Linked DNA regions of Homo sapiens: region 2 is linked to region 1. A link means that fine-mapping ties the variant in region 1 to the expression of a gene that starts in the linked region. Tissue or cell type: whole blood. Region 1 holds a variant in brackets; the other region holds the start of a gene. All regions are shown on one strand. Distances are between the middles of the regions.

Region 1 (8,104 bases):
ATGGATGTGAATAATCTTCTTGCTTGTCACTATCTATCATCTCTTGAACATTGTTTTTTTGTTCCTGAGTTACAGGACACTGAATCATGAAGATATCATAAAGATATCACCTGGACACCATTATCAATCATATTCTTTTCTTTTCTTTTTTTTTTTTTTTTTTTTTTGAGACGGAGTCTCGCTCTGTCGCCCAGGCTGGAGTGCGGTGGCGTGATCTCGGCTCATTGCAAGCTCCGCCTCCCAGGTTCACGCCATTCTCCTGCCTCAGCCTCCCAAGTAGCTGGGACTACACGCATCCGCCACCACGCCCGGCTAATTTTTTTTGTATTTTTAGTAGAGACGGGGTTTCTCCGCGTTAATTAGGATGGCCTCGATTTCCTGACCTCGTGATCCGCCCGCCTCGGCTTCCCAAAGTGCTGGGATTACAGGCGTGAGCCACCGCGCCCGGCCCCCTGTATCAATCATTTTCAATGAGGAGTCATTTTGCTCCCCAAAAGACATCCGGCCATATCTGGAGACAATTTTGGTTGTCACAATCGGAGGAAAGGGTGTGAGTGTTACAGGCATCTAATGGGTAGAGGCCAGGGACACTGTTAGACATCCTACAATGCACGGGACGGCCCCCTACAATAAAAGACTCCCCATCAAAATGTCAATAGTTCAGGCCAGGTGCAGTGGCTCAAGCCTGTAATCCCAGCACTTTGGGAGGCCAAGGCAGGCAGATCACTTGAGGTCAGGAGTTTGAGACCAACCTTGTCAACATGGTGAAACCCTGTCTCTACTAAAAACACAAAAATCAGCTGGGTGTGGTGGTGGGAGCCTGTAATCTCAGCTACTCAGGAGGCTGACGCAGTAGAATCACTTGAACCCAGGAGACGGAGGTTGCAGTGAGCTGAGATCACACTACTGCACTCCAGCCTAGGCGACAGAGTAAGACTCGGTCTCAAAAAAAAAAAAAAGTCAATAGTTCCAAGGTTGAGAAATCCTGCTCTAGACCAGCACATCCTGTAAAAATACACAATGGACCTCGTTCCTGGCATTCTTCTCCGCAGGAGGAAATCTCCATTGATTGAGGTATCTATTTGCAGTCCTATTCTGATCACATCCTATTCACCCTGTTGGTGAAGAAGGGATCCCTGCCCTAAAAAGTACAAGACAATCAAATAGCCCACACTGGACAGATGAGATTGACAGCAATTTGTTCGATGCATATATTCAGAGCCTGAGAGAGGACATCATACATCACGCAGGGGCACAAGGGGATTGCATTTAAGAACAGCATGAACAAGCAGGGGTATGGGAGGCAGGCTTTACAGTAATAACAAGGTGAGGTGTTCCCTGGTTCCTGCAGTGGTATGTGATTGGCTTGTTTGAATAATTCCATAGGCTAGCAGGGAGGTGAAACCCATTAGGTTGAGGACGACGAGGGGTGTAACTGGTCTAGCTCATAGGAGAACTAGCTGGGTAGGAAGCCTTTCCCGCTGGGTGTGGGCATATCGGGTAAGAGCAGGGGAACTCATGGTTAGGCCTTTAGGGTCTTGACAAAGTTGTCAAGGCACACATGAAAGTTTAGGCCTTATCTTATAAGGCCCAATTACATCCCTACCCAATCCACCTAAAAGCCTTACATAGTATAGGGTCTCAACATACATAAAAACTAAGGTCAGTCAACACTAAATCCTATCCTATATACTTGAAAAACTCAGATCTGTGGAGAAGTTTAGAGTTTTCCCTATAAGCAGTCAGATAAGACCAAATTCTCTCTTTCATCAAATCACAGATCTTAAGGAAAGCTCAAAATAGGGACCTCCCACTTAACATCAGTAATCCATTCCTGAAAATCAGACATTCTAACGATTAACCAGGTACCTATTTTCCCATCATTTTATTTACTTTCTTTCCTTCCTTCCTCCTTCTTTCTTTCTTTGCTTTCTTTCCTTTTTCTTTTTCTTTTTTTTTTTTTTTTTTTTTTTTTTTTTGACAGGGTCTCACTCTGTTGCCCAGGCTGTTGCCTAGGCTGGAGTGCAGTGATGTGATCACAGCTCACTGCAACATTGAATTCCTGGCCTCAAGCAATGGCCTCCCAAAGGAGGGATTACAGGCGTGAGCCACTACACACGGCCTCCCATTATGTGAAATCAGAGCATTATAATGAGTTATATGTCAATTCCATCCCTCCAACTAGCTTTGCACATTTTCCTCCAATATAGAACTATGGGACACAGTGGGTCAGTACACACACAACATCTTTGCTTTTAGTATTTTAATCATCTCTTTTACTAAATTCATTTTTCTCATTTGCTTGGTTTCTTTCTCCACAATTTTCTTCAATACTTTTCCAATCTTTTAGGAACTCATTTTACACTAGACAAAAATGAGGGCTATATGTGAAGCACAGTATGGAAAAGTGTTTCCAACAAGAACGTGATAGCGGGAACGGCTGACACTCAGGATGGTGCTCTGTTACCTCCTCAGTCACTAGCAGCACCAGGTACACACATGCCCTTGAATGATAGTTATACACATTTCAAAACATCTGCAGATGGTTCCATTGGTCTAACAACTGTATTTGGGATATAACAAGATTTTTCCTGGATGTTATTTTTGTTTTTTAAAAAAAAGCATTGTATTGGATCAGGTGCGGTGGATCACACCTATAATGCCAATACTTTGGGAGGCTAAAGTGGGAGAATCACTTGAGCCCAGGAGTTTGAGTTCAGCTTAGGCAACATAGTGGGACCCCATCTCTACAAAAAATTTTAAAAATTAGCCAAGAGTGGTGGCACGTGCCTGTAGTCCCCAGTACTCAGGAGGCTGAGGTGGGAGGATCACCTGAGCCTGGGAGGTCGGGGCTGCAGTTAGTTGGGATCATACCACCGCATTCCGGCCTGGGTGACTGAGTGAGACCTTCTGTCAAAAAAAAAAAAAGGCTGGGTGTCATGGTGGATGGTGGCTCATGCCTGTAATCTCAGCACTTTGGGAGGTCGAGGCAGGTGGATCACTTGAGGTCAGGAGTTTGAGACCAGCCTGGCCGACATGGTGAAACCCCGTCTCTACAAAAAAAAACACAAAAAATAGCTGGGAGTGGTGGTGGGCGCCTGTAACTCCAGGTACTCAGAAGGCTGAGGCAGGAGAATCGCTTGAACCCAGAAAGCGGAGGTTGCAGTGAGCCGAGATCCTGCCACTGCACTCCAGCCTGGGCGACAGAGCGAGACTCTGTCTCAAAAAAAAAAAATTGTATTGAACTATATGATTCCACTTGAACAAAGTTCTTGTTTTGTTTTGTCTTTTTGAGATAGGGTCTGGCTCTGTCATCCAGGCTGGAGTGCAATGGTGCGATCTCGGTTCACTGTAACCTCCACCTCCCGAGCTCTAGTCATTCGCCCACCTCAGCCTCCTGAGTAGCTGCGTCTATAGGTGTGCCACCATGCCCAGCTAGGTTTTGTATTTTTTGTAGAGACACGGTTTTGCCTTGTTGCCCGGGATGGTCTGGAACTCCTGAGCTTAAGCGATCTGCCCACCTCAGCCTCCCCAAGTACTGGGATTACAGGCATGAGCCACCACACCTGCCCCACTTGAACAAGGTTCCAAAAATAAGCAAAATTACATTATAGTGTTCGACATCAAGACAGTGGTTACCCTGGGCAGTAGGTGGGTGGGGAGTGACTGAAAGCATCTGAGGTGATTTCCTTTCTTGACCTGATAGCATAGATGTACTCAATTTATGAAAATTCATCCAGCCATACACTTATGGTTTGTATATTTTTTTGTATATATGTCATTCCTCCACAAAAAATTTCAAAAACGTTTTAAAAATGTCATATTGTGGCCAGGTGCAGTGGCTCATACCTGTAATCTTAGCACTCTGGGAGGCCGAGGCAGGCAGATCACCTGAGATGAGGAGTTCAAGACAATCCTGTCCAACATGGTGAAATCCCATCTCTACTAAAAATGCAAAAATTAGCCAGGTATGGTGGCGGGCACCTGTAATCCCAGCTACTTGGGAGGCTGAGGCAGGAGAATTGCTTGAACCCAGAAGGTGGAGGTTGCAGTGAGCCGAGATCATGCCACTGCACTCCAGCCTGGGTGATAAGAGTGAAACTCTGTCTCAAAAAAAAAAAAAATGTCATATTATGTATTGGGGACACCTATTTTTTCTATGTAAAACTAAGACAAAAAGCACTGTACTGAGAAAAATATACTTTTTCTGGAGTTTAAGTTTTAAAATGAAAAGCGGTTCCACTGGAAGATGTTAACAGGAGGACATTCTGCAGAGAATGCCTTCAATTTTCTCAAGGCATCTCATTTCCGCTTTCTCACAGCTATTGACAGAAGATTTTGTAGGTAGGAGATGCTCAACATTAGTGGGAGAAGAGATAGCCACATAGGATACTGGGCTATCTGTCCCAATCCTCACAGGAGGGAAAAGAACTGGAGTAGGTTCTTTTTTTTTTGAGATGGTGTCTTGCTCTGTCGCCCCAGCTGGAGTGCAGTAACGCAATCTCGGCTCACTGCAGCCTCTACCTCCCGGGTTCCAGCAATTCTCCTGCCTCAGCCTCCTGGGCGCCTGCCACCACACTGGCTAATTTTTGTATTTTTAGTAGAGACAGGGTTTCACCATGTTGGCCAGGCTGGTCTCGAACTCCTGACCTCAAGTGATCCGCCTGCCTCGGCCTCCCAAAGTGCTGGGATTACAGGCGTGAGCCATTGCGTCCAGCCATGGAGCAGGTTCTTGGATGAAGCTCTGGTAAGCAGGAAGTTTCAGAATAAAGAATGAATCTATATACATGATACAGAAATTGACAGTATTTCGAAAAGGACAGAGAAACATTAACTTACATGGGCCATGGTTTTAGAACTGCAAAAACTGGTCAGTCCTTTTCAAGATTTCTCTGTTGGAGAACTATGGAGTCCTGATAAGCCAGAGCTGAAAGAAGAAAAAGAAACCATGAAATAAGCTGCGCCACAGAGCTCCCAAAATGATGTACATCATAAAT[A/G]TGAAAACTTTTTTCTCTTCCATTCCTTCTCCCAAACTACTTCCATTGGCTTTTCCAAAGTACCACCCACCACTATGCCCATCCCTATCCTATACCCACATATAACTGGGGAAAAGTATAGGGAGTCTAAAGAGAAACAAGCTCTGGCCGGGCACGGTGGCTCTCGCCTGTAATCTCAGCACTTTGGGAGGCCAAGGCAGTTGGAGCACCTGAGGTCGGGAGTTCGAGACCAGCCTGACCAACATGCAGAAACCCTGCCTCTACTAAAAATACAGAATTAGCTGGGCGTGGTGGCACATGCTTGTAATCCCAGCTACTCGGGAGGCTGAGGCAGGAGAATCGCTTGAACCCAGGAGGCGGAGGTTGCGGTGAGCTGAGATTGCGCCATTACACTCCAGCCTGGGCAACAAGAGCAAAAAAGAAAGAAATACAAGCTCTGAAGAAATAGGTGACAAATGATGAACTTGGTGTAGAAGCCTAGCTACTTCTGCAAGAGGATTTCTGACCAGGTCGCCCTCTAGCAATGTGGATCTGGTCCAGACACTGGATTACTCAGATTTGTTCTGAGCAGCTCCTCCTCACTCTAGGACAACTTTTCAGGACTGAGAAGGGCCCTGAATCCTGCCCCTAGAATCCTGCCTGAACTACCTAAACACAGCAACTAAAAGACCACACAGATTGAACCTGGCAGCTTCTGCCAATGTGAGGCTACCCTTGCCTTCCCCAGCCAGGAAAGCTCGCCACTCCAGTTTTCCAATCAGGGCCTCCCATACCATGACATCCTTCACCACTCCTTCTCTTTTATTGATTAATTTTTTTTTAGATGGAATTTCACTCTGTCACCCAGGCTGGAGTGCAATGGCACGATCTCAGCTCACTGCAACCTCCATCTCCCGGGTTCAAGTGATTATCCTGCCTCAGCCTCCTGAGTACAGGTACATGCCACCACGCCCAGCTAATTTTTATATTTTTATATTTTTAGTAGAGACGGGGTTTCGCCATGTTGACCAGGCTTGTCTTGAACTCCTGACCTCAGGTGATCCGCCCGCCTCGGCCTCCCAAAGGGCTGGGATTACAGGCGTGAGCCACCGTGCCCGGCCCCACTTTCCTTTTAGTATCCAAGCTGGGGACAGAAGGGATTCATGATTCCTGCAGTTGGTCAACAATATTCATTGAGAACCTCTATGTGTTGGGTACTTCATACACATTGTCAGTTGTCCTCGGTACTGTTCTGCAATGTAGTGCTCTCCTTTTAATAGCTCAGGAAACTAATGCCCAGGGGTCAAATCAGTTAAGTTGCCAACATTTGTTTTGAATCTACATTTCTCTAACTAAAAAGCCCGTTTCTTTTTTCTTTTTTTGGTTTTGTTTTTTTTGTTTGTTTTTGCAGACAGAGCCTTGTTCTGTCACCCAGGCTGAACTGCAGTGGCATGACCATGGCTCACTGTAACCTCTGCCTCCAGGGTTCAAGCGTTTCTCCTGCCTCAGTCTTCCAAGTAGCTGGGATTACAGGCGCCTGCCACTACGCCCGGCTAATTTTTATATTTATAGTAGAGACAGGGTTTCACCATGTTGCCCAGGCTGGTCTCGAACTCCTGACCTCAATTGATCCACCCGCCTCAGCCTCCTAAAATGTTGGGATTACAGGCGTGAGCCACCACACCCAGCCTAAAAGCCAGTTTCTCTTTCAACTCAGGTATTTGTCTCTGAAGCAAGGATTTCTACTTCACCAGGAGAAATCTGATCATCAGCAATTCACTAAAAAAAAGAGGAATAACTAACAGTAGGTTTTGTTTTGTTTTGTTTTTTCAAAAACACGGTCTCACTCTGTTACCCAGGCTGGACTACAGTGGCATGATCTTGGCTCACAGCAGCCTCGACCTCCCGGGCTCAAGCAATCCTCCCACCTCAGATTCCCAAGCAGTTGGGACTATAGTTGGGCACCACCATGCCCAGCTAATAATCTTTCAAAAAATGCTAAATCTCAGAAGATAGCAAAATAGTTCTTTCCATCTATGGTCCACCTGCAGAAACATCAGTTTGAGCAATTATCCATCAACAAAAATGCCTTCACAATAGCTAAGGCAACCAGGTGAGAGATCGCAGTACTGGGTTGTAGCACAATAATAAGAAAAGAAGCATTGAAGAGTGCAGGAAGGACGGCTCGACATTACCCATGTCACCCCTCCCCAGCTCAAGGCAGCACAGTGTAGACAGAGGTATTGCCCACTTGGGGAAAAGTCAGGGAAGTGAGCACAGAACTTTGCCTGTTCCCTAACACCAGGCCCGCCATAGTAAAACCCAGCAACAGGGAGACTCCCAACCCCAGACTCCAGGCCAGTAGCCACAGACTGACCCTCTAGACCTGCTCTGGCATCAGGAAAGATCATGCAGCCCAGGCTTCAGGCTTGCATGATGAACTCCATCTCCAGGCTGCCACCACCATCAGGCTGACATCAGAGGCCCTGGGCTCCAACAGCCCTTAGCAACAGGCAAGCCTCAGTGGCCTCTGCAATCAGGCACATAACAGTATGGCACCAGTCACAGTGGTCTCAGGCTTTGAGCGTGCCCCAGCACTGCACCAGCCAGAGTGGCCCTGGGCTTGGGGCATGCTATGTGCAACACCAGAGAATGTGGTTCCAGCCTTTTGGAGCATCCCAGCACTATACCCACCGTAGCAGCCCCAGCCTTAAGGACCAAACCAGACAGGCTGCCCAGAACCACTGCATGGGCTATTGATGGGCTTTCCCAGATGAACCTCATTCTGCAAAGACTGGAATAAATACACAGTCCTTTCAAGTGTGCAGACATCAGTGCACGGTCACAAAGATCAACAACAATCAGGGAAACATGACATCGTCAATAGGACAACATAAAGTGCCAGTGATTGACTCTAAAGAAATGGAGATGTCTGAACTGCCTGATAAAGAATTAAAACAGGCTGGGCACAGTGGCTCACACTTGTAATCCCAGCACTTTGGGAGGCCGAGGCAGGCGGATCACGAGGTCAGGAGATCGAGTCCATCCTGGCTAACACGGTGAAACCCCATCTCTACTAAAAAATACAAAAAAATTAGGCGGGCATGCTGGTGGGTGCCTGTAGTCCA
Region 2 (8,104 bases), 51 kb after region 1:
CAAGTGATTCCCCTGCCTCAGCCTCCCAAGTAACTGGGACTGCAGGAGCATGCCACCACACCCGGCTGATTTTTTGTATTTTAGTACAGACAGGGTTTCACCATGTTGGCCAGGATGGTCTCGATCTCCTGACCTCGTGATCTGCCTGCCTCGGCCTCCCAAAGTCTTGGGATTATAGAGATGAGCCACCGCACCTGGCCTATGTAATTCTTCTTAATAATGTTATCAAAAAAGGATTCACAGAAATCAAAAAGTAGAGCAAGGCCCCTGTTACTTTCCATCCCTAGTAGCTCCAAAGGGACACCATTCCATATCATAAAACCAGCTCAAGAATTTTGCTTTGATAAGGTATCATATTAAATACTTTTTTTTTTTTTTTGAGACAGTTTCGCTCCTGTTGCCCGGGCTGGAATGCAATGGCAAGATCTCGGCTCACTGCAACCTCCACCTTCCGGGTTCAAGTGGTCCTCATGCCTCAGCCTCCCAAGCAGCTGGGATTACAGGCATGCACCACCACGCCTGGCTAATTTTGTATTTTTAGTAGAGACAGGGTTTCACCATGTTAGTCAGGCTGGTCTGGAACTCCTGACCTCAGGTGATCCGCCCACCTTGGCCTCCCAAAGTGCTGGAATTACAGGCGTGAGCCACCAGGCCCAACCTCTTTTTCCTTTTTCAAACAAAGTGTTGCAGAGTCTTTGTCTCCTTAAATGATCAATTGTTGTGATTCTATTTTGGAAAACAAACACATGTGCACAAGTGCACAGAAAAAAATGGAAAAGCAAACATTAGAATAGTAATATTTATTGTGGATGGTGAGACTACGGGCAACTTAAATTTTATTCTTATAGAGTGAAGATGACTGGGTGGTAGGGGATGGAGAAAATCTGTTCTGAATAGTACTAAATATAGTTGGCAGCTTAAACCAGGACTTTCTTTTTTTTTTGGAGACTGAGTCTCACTCTGTCACCCAGGCTGGAGTGTAATGGCAGGATCTCGGCTCACTGCAACCTCTGCCTCATGGGTTCAAGCAATTCTTCTGCCTCAGCCTCCCAAATAGCTGGGATTACAGGCAGGCGCCACTGTGCCCAGCTAATTTTTCTATTTTTAGTAGAGACAGGTTTTACCATATTGGCCAGGTTGGTCTCAAACTTCTGACCTCAGGTGATCTGCCCACCTCAGCCTCCCAAGTGTTGAGATTACAGGCGTGAGCCACTGCGCCCAGCCAATTAAACTATTTTCATACACATAGAATTAAAAACAGAGTTGTGAAGAAGGAATATCTTTTAGTTGTTAAGAAAATTGTGATTCTATAAGCCTGTGACATGAGTGGGTTTTGGGAAAATAAACAACAGTGTGGCACAAATAAGTAACACCCATCAGTTCTTTAACTGTTCTTCATCAAAACGATGGGCTATTTTCACTCTCAAGATTCTTCTATGAATGAACACAATCAAGCGACATTCCTAAATTCAGTAAAAGTATACCAAAGCAGACAGAACAGTGTGGTAAACAACAGTTTATCTTTTTTTCTCCACTAAGAAACTAGTTTTATATTATGTATAATCCTTGCAAAATGTTTTATAAATCTCTAGCTTATTAAGAGCGATTCATACATGATTAAAGGTTTTGTGAGTCATCTTGTTCAAAACTATTGCTTAGACAACATCGATCACAAGCTTTTTTTCCTTCTCATAATTAACAGTATTTATTAATGGCAAAAAGCTGCATCACATGGAGTGTGGCTTATTTAATCATTTCCTACTATTAGACACTAATTTTGTGTCTAACATTGAAAAACATTCTCAAAGGTTACAGACTTTGATTCTAGGCCAGTAGATCTGAATCTTAATGGATCATGTTTGATAATCTCATTAAATTACATATTTTCTCCCCATAAAAGTGGCATATTAACAGATATCTATAACAATTTTACGTACAATTTCAAAGAGTATCTGGTCCCCTGAAAGCCTCAAATGAATTCAAATTACTTCTGGTTAAGAATTCCTGTTCTATGGCCGGGCACGGTGGCTCATGCCTGTAATCCCAGCACTTTGGGAGGCCAAGGCGGGCAGATCACCTGAGGTCGGGAGTTCAAGACCAGCCTGACCAACATGGAGAAACCCCGTCTCTACTAAAAATACAAGATTAGGCAGGCGTGGTGGTATATGCCTGTAATCCCAGCTACTAGGGTGGCTGAGGCAGGAGAATCGCTTGAACCTGGGAGGCGGAGGTTGCGGTGAGCTGGGATCACACCATTGCACTCCAGCCTGGGAAATAAGAGCGAAACTCCGTCTCAAAAAAAAAAAAAAAAAAAAGAATTCCTGTTCTAGGCTGGGGGCGGTGGCTCATGCCTGTCATTCCAGCACTTTGGGAGGCCGAGGCAGGCAGATCACTTGAGGCCAGGAGTTTGAGACCAGCCTGGCCAACATGGTAAAACCCGGTCTGTACTAAAAATACAAAAATTAGCTGGGTGTGGTGGTGCAGGCCTGTAATCCCAGCTACTTGGGAGGCTGAGGTATAAGAATCGCTTGAACCACGGAAAGGGAGGTTGCAGTGAGCTGAGATTGTGCCACTGCACTCCAACCTGGGTGACAGAGCAAGACCCTGTCTCAAAAAAAAAAAAAAAAAAAAAAAAAAAGAATTCCTGTTTTAGACTATTTAAGCATCTGATCTGGCTCATTTATTTTTTACTAGGAAATACTCACCACAATTGGCTTAGTATTTTCATTTTCCCCCCATCTATAGAAGGCTGATGTAGAATTGCTCCAAATCACTACTTAAGAATACATAACTAAGGTTTATTAAGTACTAACGAGGTCTCAGGAACTGTTCTAAGAACTTTACACATAGTAATTAAAAGAAGGCCCACAGAAGTAATGAAAAACATCTACCAAATGGGTATGTGCATACAGGCTCTCGGGAGGGGACCTAGGTATCAGCTCAATGGACAGGACATTTATGGAGAATGAAACAAATATTCTCATGTCCTAAGAAATAAGAATGCATTTCACAGAAGAAAGCAGAAACACCCACTCGCCTCGACCTTGACTTAAACAGGCAACAGCAATTCATTCCTCCTCCCGCTCGGACCCCTTTTCTTAAAGAATTGGGCAGGACTGGCTAATAAGGGAACCAGGCTTTTCTTGCAGCCCAGCCTCGCATAGGGCACAATGCCCCCACCGCCCACCCACACATAACCAGAGTAACATAAGAGAGATGGTGTTGTTAACTCTTCCCAGTATCAAAGAAAGGCCAGGGTCATGGATGCCCGGGGCTAGAACTGGAGTTCACAATAGCTTCCTGGAAGCAATGCTGTGGTTCTGAAACCTGCAGCTGGACTCTTCAGAGTTGTGAGTGCACGTGCGTGGGTCCGGGTCCGCGAGGAGGTGGTGTGGGAGTCCCTTCCAGGAGCAAGCCTGGGCGGGAGCGGGGGCTCGTTCAGTTCTAATATTCCTATCCCAAGGTCGGGTCTGAGCCTTGTTTCGCTGTTGCCCAGGCTGGAGAGTAGTGGTGCTATCATAGCTCGCTGCAGCCTCAATCTCCTCCTAGGCTCAAGCCATCCTCCCGCCTCAGCCTCTCGAGTGGCTGGGACCACAGGAGCACGCCATCACACCCGGCTCATTTTTTAAATTTCTGGTACAGATGGGAGTTTCGCTTTGCTGCCCAGGCTGGTCTCGAACTCCTGGCTTCCAGCGATCCTCCCGCCTCGCTCTCCCAGAGCTCTGGGATTACAGATGTGAGCCACCTGGTCCGGCCTAGTCTGCGCGTTTCTGCTGGGAGTCTTTGGCGTGCAGAAACTGACCGAGGGCCATTTCTCTGCAGCTGGGCCCGGTGTGGGCAGAGGATGCTGGGGTCAGTCACGCACTCCACGGCCACAACAACCTTCGCTCATACAATAGTCTCTGCACCCAAGTCAGCCGCACAGACTCCGTCACGTCCCAGCCCCGGCCCCGTCACGCCCACGACACACACACCCGGGCCTGAGGCGCGGGCTCCCGCCCCTCTGCGATACTGCAGTGGCCCCGCTTACCTCTCTTTACCCCCTGGGCCGCAGCGCTTTTCCTACAGATTACCAGGACCGACGCTCCGGGCCAGGACTGCTCACTCGGGGCGCGAACCCGAGGCACAGCGATGCCCGAACGGAGGAAGCCGCTGCCGGGTCACGCCACAATCCCCGGGGCCTAACGGGCTGCGCGCGGAGGCTGCTGGGAGGGCCGGGCGCGCTCACGGAGTGCGCAGGCGCGGCCAGTCTCAAGGGTCCGCTCGCTGGTGCAGCCCCTGCTCTGCGTGAACCCGGAGCCGGAGCTAGGTCCGTCCCAGCGAGGCTGCGCTTCGAGTCCCTTAGCGCCTGGGGACGGCGCGGCAGGGCCTGGAGGGGAGCGGGGACAGATGGCTGGCGCGTTAAAGAGGGGCGCCCGCGACCGCCTCTCTATAGTGCCAACTAGGGAGCCCTGTGAGCGAGGACGGCGCTGCGAGTCTGTCCCTGGCGCGCTCCTGGGTGGGATTCTTTCACTGGGTGTGGCTGTTGGGATTTGAGACCGTGTGACTCCGGAGATTCGGGGAAGCCAGTTCCTATATTTTCCATTTCTGTATTTTTAAATGGTAAAAACAATGAAAAGGAGAACAATATTTTGTGAAATATGAAAATCATACATGTCAAATTTCAGTGTCCATAAATAAAAGTTTTATTGGAACATAGCCGTGTTTGATTGTGTACTGTCTATTGCTATATTTGAGCTACAAGGACAGACTCGAGTAGTTACACAGACCAGATGGCCCACGCAGCCTAAAATACAGTCAGTTCTCACTATTCACAGTAGTTATGGTCTATAAACTTGCTACAAACACGGAATTAGTGAATACCATTCCACTGCTTCTAGGGGAAATACAGGGTTAGTTTCCTGTAAGCATCTGGTCACATTTTAGTCAACCGATGAATGCATAAGCTTATTTTATTGTGTTTATTTTCTTTTTTTCTTTTTTTTTTTTTTTTTTGAGATAGGGTCTTGCTCTGTCACCCAGGCTGGAGTGCAGTGGTGGGATCTTGGCTCACTGCAACCTCCTCCGCCTCCCGGGTTCCAGCAATTCTCCTGCCTCAGCCCCCAGAGTAGCTGGGAATACAGATGCATGTCACCATGCCCAGCTGATTTTTGTATTTTGTAGAAACGGAGTTTCACCATGTTGACCAGGCTGGTCTCAAACTCCTGACCTCAGGTGATCCACCCGCCTTGGCCTCCCAAAAGTGCTGGGATTATAGGCATGAGCCACCGCGCCTGGCCTTATTGTGTTTCTATTTAAACACTTTAATATATATTATTGATTCATTAACATTGAACTCATGGCCAACAGCTCCATAACTCATGCCTGAATGAAGCTTATCTAACACATGTATTTTTTCTGTAAGACACATGACCGCTTTCTCATTCATAGGAACATCAACAGCACTTTAGTACTACTACATTTGGGGTCCCTTTGAAACAGCAAAATCACCAGCAAAAAACAAAAATATGAGAAGCCAAGGTACTAAATGGACTGCAAAAAGGGTACCTGTTTACAGTATGAGAGCTGAAATAAGAAGATAGAGGGTCACTTTGTTTGACTTTGGCTGAGAACATGCCTGTTAAGGGACTCAAAAAGGTTCACCGCTCTTCGGATGTCCACAAATGACCACAAAGGTGCTGCAAATATTGACTCTGGGTTTATAAAAAAGTTTTAGCAAGTAGATGAATTCACAAATTCAGAATCTGTGAATGAAGATTGACTGTATTTACTATCAGGCCCTTTAAAGAAAAAGTTTGCCAATCCCTGTTTTTATATGTCCCTCTTAGTTATACAGCTAGTGTTTAAAAACTACTTGAAATAATTATTTTCCCTGTGCCACCAATTATGTCTATAATTGATTGTACCCCATTAAATAAGCACAAAGAAAAAAGAAAGCTTTCTTTATAGAAGAAGGCCAGCTAATAACTATCAAGGGTTTGATTTTACGTGGCTTAGACACGCTGCTTCAAATGCATTTAAGATGTTTGGTTTTAACAAGGATTTTGCAACAGTATAGTGTTTTCCTTAAGTTCAATGTCATTTCTATGTCATGGCAGCTGTCACCTGCAGTTAGGTAAGACAGTGACATCATTAACATGGATGCATTTTCATGGCATGAAGGCTAGCCATTGATGGGGTAATATAACACAATTTATCAGTAAACGCTGAGTTTTCTTTGAAGTCAGTCTCTGATTTCTTACAGTGCTTGATGTCTGCCTTGCCTGCTAGTGACCAATTCCCCTGCGTCTTTACAGAGCCTTGTTACTCACTCAGTGTAAAGACAGTGGGGGAAACAAGGTTTCCCAAAGTATCCTTATGTGCAAAAGTGTTTCTTACTACTTTGGAAATACTAAGCTGAGTTTAATGTTTATTCTTTTTCTACCAACAGACACAAAAAGGACAAGCACATGCCTTAGAATATTCAATACAATTTTCTACAGCGATATGGTTAAATACTCTTCTGTCTTCACTACTTTTTTGTTTTTACTTTACTTGGAAATTTTAATTCTCTAGGAATAACGGGGCAGGAGTCTAAAATAATACTTTGTGGGAGTGAAGTATATATTTTTTTCCAAGTAAAAAAAAAAAATCAGGCCAGGCGTGATGGCTTAGGCCAGGCGTGATGACTCATGCCTGTAGTCCCACATACTCGGAAGGCCAAGGCAGGAGGATAGCTTGAGCCTGTGAGATCGAGATTACAGTGAGCTATGGATCGGCCACTGCACTCCGGGCTGGGCGACAGAGCGAGACCCTGTCTCAAAATTAAAAAAAGGAAAAAAAAAAAAAAAAAAGTCTGCGCTCCCCGGGGCCCAAGGAGAGGACCCAGGAGAGGAGTCTGGCTCCTTTTGCCTCAGACGAGTCCAGGGCGCCGGGTTAACTGGTCTAAAGTCCCAGGCGCTTTCTGGGACTGCTCAGCCACCGGCCGCTCCCGGCACCAGGGGACGCCGGACGCCCTCTGGACAATCGGCGCACTTGCCACGATCTTGGACGGGCCTCGGGCCTCGACCTTAAGATTCCCCGCTCCAGCTCCGAGATGTCAGCAACGCTGATCCTGGAGCCCGCGGGCCGCGGCTGCCGAGACAAGCCGGTGCGCATCACCATGCGCGGCCTGGCTTCGGAGCCGCTGGACACGCTGCGCGCGCGTCCCTGCGCGACGAGAAGGCTGGGCTCTTCCGCTACTGCGCCGACGCCCGCGGCGAGCTGGACCTGGAGCGCGCGCCCGTGCTGGGCGGCAGCTTTAGGGGGCTAGAGTCCATGGGGCTGCTCTGGGCCCTGGAATCCAAGAAACCTTTTTGGCGCTTTCTGAAGCGGGACGTACAGATTCCCTTTATCGTGGAGTTGGAGGTGCTGGACGGCCACGACCCCGAGCCTGGACGGCTGTTGTGACAGGCGCGGCACGAGCGCGACTTCCTCCCACAAGGGGTGCGGAGCGATTCGGTGCGCGCGGGCCGGGTGCGCGCCACGCTCTTCCTGCCGCCAGGACCTGGACCCTTCCTAGGGATCATTGGCATCTTTGGTAATGGAGGGAGCCTGTTGGAATATCGAGCCAGCCTCCTTGCTGGCCATGGCTTTGCCACGTTCGCTCTAGCTTGTTATAACTTTGAAGATCTCCCCAAGAACGTGGACAACATACCCCTGGAGTACTTCGAAGAAGCCCTATGCTACATGCTTCAACATCCCCAGGTAAAAGGCCCAGGCACTGGGCTTTGGGGCATTTCTCTAGGAGCTGATATTTGTCTCTCAATGGCCTCATTCTTGAAGAATGACTCAGACACAGTTTCCATCAATGGATCCGGGATCAGTGGGAACAGAGGCATAAACTGTAAGCAGAATAGCATTCCACCATTGGGCTATGACCTGAGGAGAATCAAGGTAGCTTTCTCAGGCCTCGTGGACGTCGTGGATATAAAGAATGATCTTGTAGGAGGGTATAAGAACCCCAGCATGATTTCAATGGAGAAGGCCCAGGGCCCCATCATTTTCATTGTTGGTCAGGATGACCATAACTGGAGGAGTGAGTTGTATGCCCAGTCTCTGAACGGTTACGGGCCCATGGAAAGGA

Evidence for each region. PIP is the estimated chance that this variant, and not a neighbour inherited with it, causes the effect.
Region 2: it holds the start of ZFP82, and the variant in region 1 is fine-mapped to the expression of ZFP82 in whole blood (TOPMed, PIP above 0.99).

Annotation. Positions count from the first base shown.
Region 1 is chr19:36,363,045-36,371,148 of GRCh38, forward strand. ZFP14 (ZFP14 zinc finger protein) reads right to left here. Exons shown (of 5, transcript NM_020917.3): 2 at 4,840-4,927. The coding sequence starts at 4,848. Among named protein-coding and RNA genes, the nearest start is that of ZFP14, 12 kb to the right of the region's middle. The variant A/G (reference allele first, on the strand shown) is at 4,998.
Region 2 is chr19:36,414,462-36,422,565 of GRCh38, forward strand. It overlaps ZFP82 (ZFP82 zinc finger protein), which reads right to left and starts at 4,183. Exons shown (of 5, transcript NM_133466.4): 1 at 4,031-4,183. It also overlaps the pseudogene ACOT4P1. RefSeq lists enhancers at 3,552-3,711, 7,242-7,924.